3 linked regions of the Homo sapiens genome follow. The protein of the gene in region 2 purifies or fractionates together with the protein of the main gene of each other region. This does not show direct contact. Each region holds a gene or a part of one and is shown on either strand. Other genes may lie near its edges.

The links.
Region 1: the proteins of B3GALT2 (region 2) and HMGN5 purify together in Homo sapiens (co-immunoprecipitation; one large-scale study listed by IntAct). This does not show direct contact.
Region 3: the proteins of B3GALT2 (region 2) and CLN3 purify together in Homo sapiens (affinity purification with mass spectrometry, with the first as the bait; one large-scale study listed by BioGRID). This does not show direct contact.

Annotation. Positions count from the first base shown.
Region 1 is NC_000023.11:81,191,851-81,195,413, reverse strand, and holds part of HMGN5 (high mobility group nucleosome-binding domain-containing protein 5), read left to right. Parts: intron 1-3,563. UniProt on the Homo sapiens protein: Preferentially binds to euchromatin and modulates cellular transcription by counteracting linker histone-mediated chromatin compaction.
Region 2 is NC_000001.11:193,180,903-193,183,657, forward strand, and holds part of B3GALT2 (beta-1,3-galactosyltransferase 2), read right to left. Parts: intron 781-2,755; 5' UTR 661-780; coding exon 1-660. UniProt on the Homo sapiens protein: Beta-1,3-galactosyltransferase that transfers galactose from UDP-galactose to substrates with a terminal beta-N-acetylglucosamine (beta-GlcNAc) residue. Can also utilize substrates with a terminal galactose residue, albeit with lower efficiency.
Region 3 is NC_000016.10:28,479,364-28,482,074, forward strand, and holds part of CLN3 (battenin), read right to left. Parts: intron 1-2,711.

The sequences.
Region 1 (3,563 bases), on a different chromosome or scaffold from region 2:
GTCTGGCTGGGTACCATCTAATCAGCTTCCAGCACTGCTAGCATAAAAGCAGGCAAAGGAACATGGAAGGACTAGACTGGCTTAGTCTCCCAGCCCACATCTTTCTCCCGTACTAGATGCTTCCTGCCCTTGAACATTGGAATACAAGTTCTTCAGCTTTGGGACTCTTGGACCTTCGACCACAGACTGAAGGCTGCACTGTCGGCTTCCCTATTTTTGAGGTTTTGGAACTTGGACTGGCTTTCTTGCTCCTCAGCTTGCAGACAGCCTAATGTGGGACTTCATCTTGTGATCGTGTGAGTCAATGCTTCTTAATAAATTCCCCTTTATATATACACCTATCTTATTAGTTCTGTCCCTCTAGAAAACCCTGACTAATACGCTCTCTATCTTCCCCCCACATCCTACCAGTAATAACTCCATAGAGTGGTTGTCCAGAAATTACTTATGAACACCTCCAGTTACAGTGAGCTGAAAATTCCAGAGGCATTTCCATTCTGCTTTTAGTCAGCTTAAAACATTAGAACATTATTTTCTGAGATTAAGCTGAGAACTGTTTCCTTTCATGTTTCTTTGATTCTAATAATTACCCATTATAAACTCATCTTTATCCTTGTAATATGAAGCCTTCTCTTCTCCAACTTAGTATTTCCTGTTTCTCTAGCCATTCTTCATAAGCTGTGATCTCTAGAGGTGTCACTAAATATGTTTCAGTTTGTCAGTTTCTCTCTTCTACAAAAGGTCGTCCCAGAATTGAATGTCATAATCCAAGAATGGTATGACTAGCATTGTATAAAGTAGTGTAAGGTCCTCATTCTGGACACTTTGTTTCTCTTTTAGCCCTTTTATTTTCTGAGGAATAGTATTTCACAGTGGTTTTAATTTACATTTCACTGATTACTAAGAAGTTGTGCATCTTTTCATATATTTATTGCCATTTATATATTTTCTTTTGTGGAATATCTGTTAAGAACTTTTTCTATTTTTCTATATTTTTTTGTCTCTATTCCTAATAGCAACATTTTGTCCCTATGTGTTGCAAGTAACTTTTATCCTGAGGCTAGCCTTTTTTTAAACATTTTTAATTAGTCATATATAAAATATTTTTCTTTATGGTTAATGCTTTTCTGTGAATTTTTAAAGAAATCTTTCCAGACCCTGAGAACGTGAAAATGTTATCTTACATTTATTTATAAAAGCTTTATTGTGGTGCTTTTTACATTTAGATCTACATTCCACCTGGAATTGATTTGTGTGTAAGGTTTGAGATATATGTCAAGTTTAATTTTTTTCAAATAGCTATCCAATTATTCTAGCACCAATAATTGAAACTACACCCTTTTCCCACTATTTTGCAATACCATCTTTGTCAAAAATCAAATGATTATACATGCGTGAGTCTGTTTCTGGTGTCTGTATTCTGTTTCATTTGTCTATTTGTCTACCCTTGTGCCATTACCACACTATATTACTTATTATAAATTTAAATATCTTGAAATGTAATATGGCAAATTCTCCTACTTTGGTCTTCTTCATGAAGTGTCCTGACTATTCATTGCCCTTTATATTTCCTTTTAAAAAGGTAGAATGTTTATAACCGCAATATACAAATACAATTGATTATAGTATGTTGACCTTGTATCAAGTAATTTTCTAAACTCATATGTGAATATTAATAGTTTATCTGTATATTCTTTTACATTTTCTATTTACACAATAACATCAACCATAAAAAATGGCAGCTCTATTTTTTCTTCCAATCTTATACTTTTTATTCATTTTCATTTCCTTATTTCCTTTGACACCTCCAGAACACTCATTCCTTTCACCATTGTTGTGTAACAAACAACCCTAAAGCTTAGTGGCATGAAGCAACCATTTTATTATACTCACAGATTCTGCAGGTCAAGAATTCAGCCAGGGCACAGAGGTGACTACTTGTCTCTTCTCTACTGTAATTAGGACGTCAGCTGGAAAGCCTTGAAGGCTGGGAGTCACTTGATGGCTGCAGGCTAAAACCATTTGGAGGTTTCTTTATTTGTGTTTCTGGTGCCTTTGTTGAAATGATTCAAACATTAAGCTCAGATGTAAATGTTGACTAGAGTGCCTGAATATGGCTTCACCACATGACTTTCTCATGGCATGGCAGCTTCAGAGAGTTGATCTTCTCATACTGCAGCTTACAGCCCAATGAACAAGGCAGAAACTAGATCATCTTTTATGACCTTATCTTGGAAGTCACATAGCATCATTTCTCCGAACAGCTATAATCCAGAAACAAGAAAAACAACACTTGAATGGACTCCAAAGGAACCTTTAAGGTGACTTGGATAGGCTCCAAAAGCAAAAGTTATATGTCTTTGAAAAAAGATAGCATCATCTGGAGCCTCATTGTTAGTACCACATTTTCATCTCAAAGTCTAGCACTCGATTGAAAATAATCTTACCTAAAAAAATAGATGTGACTGAAAACTAAAGACTAGAAAAGCACACAAAAATTAAAAAGAGGTATTACCATCAAAGGAGTAGCAAAAAAAAAAATTATTGCTGACTGTACATCAGAACAAATGAGAGGCAGAAGACAATGAAAACATGGCTTCAATGTTCTAAAAGAATATAACTGTCAGCATAGAATATAACTGTGCTAAAATAATAACTGTCAGCATAGAAATCTAAAGCCAACAAAAATATCCCTTACAAACTAATGTGAAATAAAGACACTTTCATATAAACAAAAGAGAATTATTCACCAAAGTTTTACACTAATTGAAATACTAAAGAATGTATTTCGGGTAAAATAAAAAAGATTATAGCTAAGAGATGCAGCAAGAAGTGAAGAACAACAGAAATGGCAAATATCTGAGTAAATCTGAATGAGCAATGTGTAAAACAATAATAACAAATGTCTTGTGAGTTTAAAATATGTACAGAACTAAAAGACATAAGAAAAATTTAAAATTGTATATATAAATAAAAACCTTCCCACAAAGTAAACTATAGGCCCAGGTTGTTTCATTGGCAAAATTTACCAAACATTTAAAGAATAAATAATGCCAATTTTACCCATATTCTTCAATATAATAGAAGAAAAAGGATATTTCTCAATCATTTCAAGGGCAGCTTAGTGTTCATTCCAAAGCTTGATGAGTACATTTCAAGAAAAGAAATACACAGGCCAATCTCATCTCTTGAAAAATAGAAGCAAAGTTACTAAACTAAGTAGTATCAAACCAAATCCAGTAGTATATAAAAAGGATAGTACTTTATGACCAAGTTGGGTTATTCTAATTGTTAAGCAGAACACTGGGCATCACTTGCTAATCCCAGGAATTGACTCTAATCACATATGCCCATTGCATCGCTTTATCAGAGTCATGAAGGAGAACATAATGCAGTCAAGCCCTGGATGAAACAACACTTTACTTATATAGAAAAAAAACAGAGCACAATCAGCTTCAATAGTGTGTGTTGGTACCCTCCATGGCTAGACGGTACCCCCTAGCAACAAACACAGAGCAACTGGATAAGCACACCCTTCTTGTGCCTTAGAAAAAGGACCCTTA
Region 2 (2,755 bases):
GTATTCCTGTTGAATTATATCATGATATTGTCTGCTTTCTTCCAGTATTGCACGTTGAAGGTAGCCATTTAGCTTAATACTTAAGCCCAACAAAAATATTCTTGTGATTTGAATACCAGGTGCTAGACTTTCATTGCCCCAAGTTTGCCGAATAGCTCTTCTAGCTTCTATTTGTCCAGGCTCTGCAGCTATTAGTAGTATTAAAAAAGGACTTTTCTCTTGGCATTTTTCAGGCTCATTAATAATATATTTGAAATGGTAAGAATTTGGATGTCCAGTACCTTTTTCATTGTAAATACTTCCATTGGCACTAAGTGTATTCTCCAGGCCTGTAACTCCTTGTGGTGACAGGTCTGTGTTATTAGAGTTAGTTGCTGTTTGAGGCCTCAGGGTTTGAGGGACTGTTTCTTTCCAAATGTTCCGAAGGGAGCTGTGGTTTGTCTCACTTTTTGTTGACCGAAATCCTCGGAAAGTGTATGTCACAGGGTTTTCTTTGAATCCAGCTCTGCCTGGCAGCCAGTCATGATGATTGAAAAACAAAAACATAGCAAAAAGAAACACTAGAGAAAGTACTCCAATAAGATGAGTGCGGAACAGAGACCTTTTGGCATTCCAGGTCATCTTTGCAAAGCAGCAGTGTCTTCTCCTCCACTGAAGCATGTTGTAAATATCCAGTAGTGGTATATGAGAGATTGGTGACCAAAAATGTTTTCTTCTCCTTAATACTATTCTTTGGCAATCATTTTCTAATTCAGTCACATTGTCTCTCTTGTAGTCATTCTATAAAAATGAAGCACAAAAGTTTACAGAACTGCCTGAAAGGGACTTTGGGTACTAATATGATCAGGGCAAATAGGAATGTCTTAAGCTGTGAAAATATAACCCAGGAACGAAGCTTGTAATTTATTTCCCCTTGGCAACATAACATCACTGAGAACAAGATTAATTTATTTAAAAATATACCTTTGTAGCACAGTGAGCATTTTAAAGAGATGAGGTGATGGATTCATTTCATTGTCTTGTTACACTGGTCATTTGTACTTTTGACCCAAGTTAAAGATTTAAAAGTTGAATGTATTCGAGAAAAATGTTACTAGATTTCTGAGAAGGGTTGTGTAAAAACGCCTTAAGAGCAGATGGAAAATTTATTGGCATTAATTAAAATTGATTTGACATACTATTGGTGGTATGGTGCACAGTCAGAGGCCTTTTTTGTAAAATGGTCATGTATCAGTTGTGGGACAGACGGTGCAAGGTTGATTATGGCAGAGTTCTGTTAGTCACAGTACACTGCTTGGCATGTTTCCATTGGCCCCTACTGTGTTGAGAAAGTCAATGAGAAGATGCACCTGTCAAAATTAATTTTCAGGGTCTAGTAACTTCAGTGTAGGATTTTTAGACAGTAATAAATGATTAACACTTTCAAAAATTTTAACTTTTCTTTGTAAATATGAAGTATTCATGATATAATTGTTCTTAGACTTAAGATTAATTTTAAAATACAGCATGTAAGTGTCTTTGATTATCTATGGCTTTGGCAGAACACTGTTACATATCTTGGTTGAGTCTCCATGTTAGAATTAAAAGAGCTACTTTGAAACCAACTGTTTAAAATTCTGAATTTCACACAATATATTTTTAAATATCCTTGAGTTGTGCTTTATTCTAAATTTACATGCAGATAATTTGTTAAACTTTTAGAACTTGTCATTAGCACAGTTAGAGCCCTATATTTTAAAAAGGTTATGAGATGGCAATATGTGAGGTTCATGATGGCATATATTAAGAACTGGTTATGTTATCTTGCAACAAGGTTTTCAGTGCATAGCACAGATTTGTTCACATTTGTTCTTAGTGTTTTTGTTGTTGTTTTTAGTTTTTGGGGACCAATATGTCGAGGGAGTAGAGGTGGGCAAAGAGGTATAGTTTGAATTCCATTAAAACAGGAGAAAACTTTTTGACAAGGAGTGATGAATATGTAATTTTAATTTTTCCAACTTTTTATTATGAAAATTACTTCTTTAAGCAAAAGAAATCAATTAAAAAGTTTTAATACAGGAGCATTTATTTGAAATTACAGTGTATGCATAAATACATGTATGTATTTAGCCTGTGATAATGAGAGAGTCATGGTTAATATTAAATTTGTTTAACCTTGGCATAAATTTAATTACTTCTAGGAAATAGAATTTACATGGAAATCCTCATGTAATTGAATAGTTATAAAGTAAAATTCACATACATAACGTTAAGTACTTTGAAAATATTGATTGAAAGTGTTAGATGTAAATGAATGAAAGTGCTATTATAGTAGCAGCCACTAGGAGGAGCAAGTAGGTGGGAATTTGAACAAATATCTAAGGTCCAACCATATAGGCACCAGCGTTTGAAATTTCTAGTTTCTGAGATTACAGAGTACTTTTAGAAGTTATAATATTTCTAAAATGTAAAAAAATTAAGCATTTTGAAAGATGTGAACAATTTTTTTAAGTTTGGAATTTTAAAAGCAAATCATCTAGTATGCTATTTGTTAGAATTTGTTTATATGAATTTAAACTCAGCATTAGTGTAATGAAAACCAAGGCTATTCACTGTACCAACAAAACATAGTTCTGCTGTAAGCTAAGCTGAAAATAATAGAGCTGAGCATTCTGATTTAGAAACTCAGTGTTTTCCTTCTTGTACTTTTAAATAGCTGGCCATTCTTTTTAGACCAGGGAACTATTTTTAAGCTTTTATTTCCAAATGACATATT
Region 3 (2,711 bases), on a different chromosome or scaffold from region 2:
TCACCTGAGGTCAGGAGTTCAAGACCAGCCTGGCCAACATGGCGAAACCCCATCTCTACTAAAAAATACAAAAATTAGCCAGGTGTGGTGGCACGTGCCTGTAATCCCAGCTACGCAGGAGGCTGAGGCAGAAGAATCGCCTGAACCTGGGAGGCGGAGGTTGCAGTGAGCCAAGATCACGCCATTGTACTCTAGCCTGAGCTACAAGAGCAAAACTCTGTCTCTAAAAAACAAAACAAAACAAAACAAAACAAAAAATTTGCTGGGCGTGGTGGCGCACCTGTAATCCCAGCTACTCGGAAGGCTGAGGCTTGAGAATCGCTTGAATCTGGGAGGCAGGGGTTGCAGTGAGCCAAGATTGCACCGCTACATTCCAGCCTGGGCAACAGAGCGAGACTCCATCTCAAAAAACAAAACAAAACAAAAAACATTATAGCTAAAAACATGTAGCTTAAAACCATAAGCTACATGTTTCAGTGGTATCTACAAGCACCCTGAGTTATAAATTTGGGGTTTTGTGGGTACAAACCCTGGGCTTGCAGCACTGCTCAGATAAATAAGGAAGGAGGCTGGAGGATATTTACATGCTTTTGCCATAATATGAAAGTGTAATCTTTTTTTTTGAGATAGGGTCTCACCCAGGCTGGGGTACAGTGGCATGATTATGGCTCACTGCAGCCTGGAACTCCTGGGCTAAAGCGATCCTCCTGCCTCAGCCTCCCGAGTAGCTGGGATTACAGGTGAATGTCACCACACCCTGTTGTTGTTTTTTGTAGAGATGAGGTCTCGTGATGTTACCCAGGCTGCTCTCTCAAACTTCTGGGCTCAAGCAATTCTCCCACCTGGCTTATTTTTTTTTTTAATTTTTTGTAGAGGTGGGGGGTCTCACTATGTTGTCCAGTCTGGTCTCAAGCTCCTGGCTTCGAGTGATCCTCCCACCCTAGCCTCCAAAAGCATTGGGATTACAGGTGTGAGCCACAACACCTAGCCTAAAGTATAATCTCTATTTCTGTATTTTGCTATCACAGAATTGAGTTCCTAAGTCTTTTTTTTTGGAGATGGAGTCTCGCTCTGTGGCCCAGGCTGGAGTACAGTACTGCAATCTCGGCTCACTGCAACCTCCATATCCGGAGTTCAAGCAATTCTCCTGCCTCAGCCTAGCGAGTAGCTGAGATGACAGGCAGGTGCCACCACGCCCAACTAATTTTTGCATTTTTAATAGAGACGGGGTTTCACTGTGTTGGCCAGACTGGTCTCAAACTCCTGATCCTGACCTCAGGTGATTCACCTGCCTTGGCCTCCCAAAGTGCTGGGATTACAGGTGTGAGCCACCAGGACTGGCCAAGTTCCTAAATTTCAAAGGCAGAAGACTTTCCTGTCACAGTTGACAGTTTATTGTAACAGTTACCTGCAGGGGCTGTGGATTTGTAACCTTGAAACAATGAATGCTGGTTATATGAAACTCCTTTTATTAGACTGTTGTAAGGAAGGGTGTTTGCGCCCTTAAAGCTGTAAACTACTGTTTGCCAAGGGCAGTTGAATTTGCTCACCACCCTCAAGATAAATAACCCACTGACTTCAAAGTCACCAATTCTATTATAATTAACTATCTAGAATAAAAGAACTGTACATTTTCTTATAGTTAGAAACATTATTTGAAAGCCTGTCTCTTTGCCTGAGGTAAATGACCTATGATCATGCCACTGTACTCCAGCCTAGGCGACAGAGGAAGGTTCCGACTTTTCCTTTCTTTTTTCTTTTTCTGGGAGACAGGGTCTCGCTCTATTGCCTAGGCTGGAGTGCAGTGGCATGACCTTGGTTACTGCAGCCTTGACCTCATGGGTTCAAGTGATCCTCCCACCTCAGCTTCCCAGTAGCTAAGACTACAGGTGTGCGCCACTGCACCTGGCTAATTTTTGTAGAGATGTGATTGTGCCATGTTGCCCAGGCTGGACTTGAACTACCAAGCTCAAATGATCCACCTGCCTCAGCCTCCCATAGTGCTGGGATTACAGGCATGAGCCACCTGGCCCGGCCCAATCCCAATGCTTAAAACACACACACACACACACACACACACACACACACACGCACACACACACACACACACACTACAAAATCTTGTTCTTCGATTCTTTCTCTCATCTCTATTTCTTACAACTACCCTGAAAAATAGGTATTGGCCACACCCAATTTATACATGAGGAAATTGAGGCTCAGAGAGGTTCTGAGACCTGCCCTAAGTCACACAGTGGCTGAGTACTGAAGCTCAGTTTTGCTTGGCTCCTGAGGCTATACATTTTACATGGAGCTCTGCTGGACTTTGGTTCCCTGTGCTAAGAAATGATAGTGTACAATTTACACTTCCCTGTAATCCCAGCACTTTGGGAGGCTGAGGCCGGCAGATCACCTGAGGTCAAGAGTTCAAGACCAGCCAATATGGCAAAATCCCATCTCTACTAAAAATACAAAAATTAGCCAGGTATGGTGGCGGGCGCCTGTAATCCCAGCTACTCAGGAGACTGAGGCAGGAGAGTCACTTGAACCCGGGAGGCAGAGGTTGCAGTAAGCCAAGATTGCGCTACTGCACTCCAGCCTGGACGACAGAGCGAGACTCTGTCTCAAAAAAAAAAAAAAAAATTTACACTTCCCACTGATAGTGGGAAGCAGGGGGTTTGGGGAAGCTGGGAGCCAAGCTGGGAGCCAAGGTG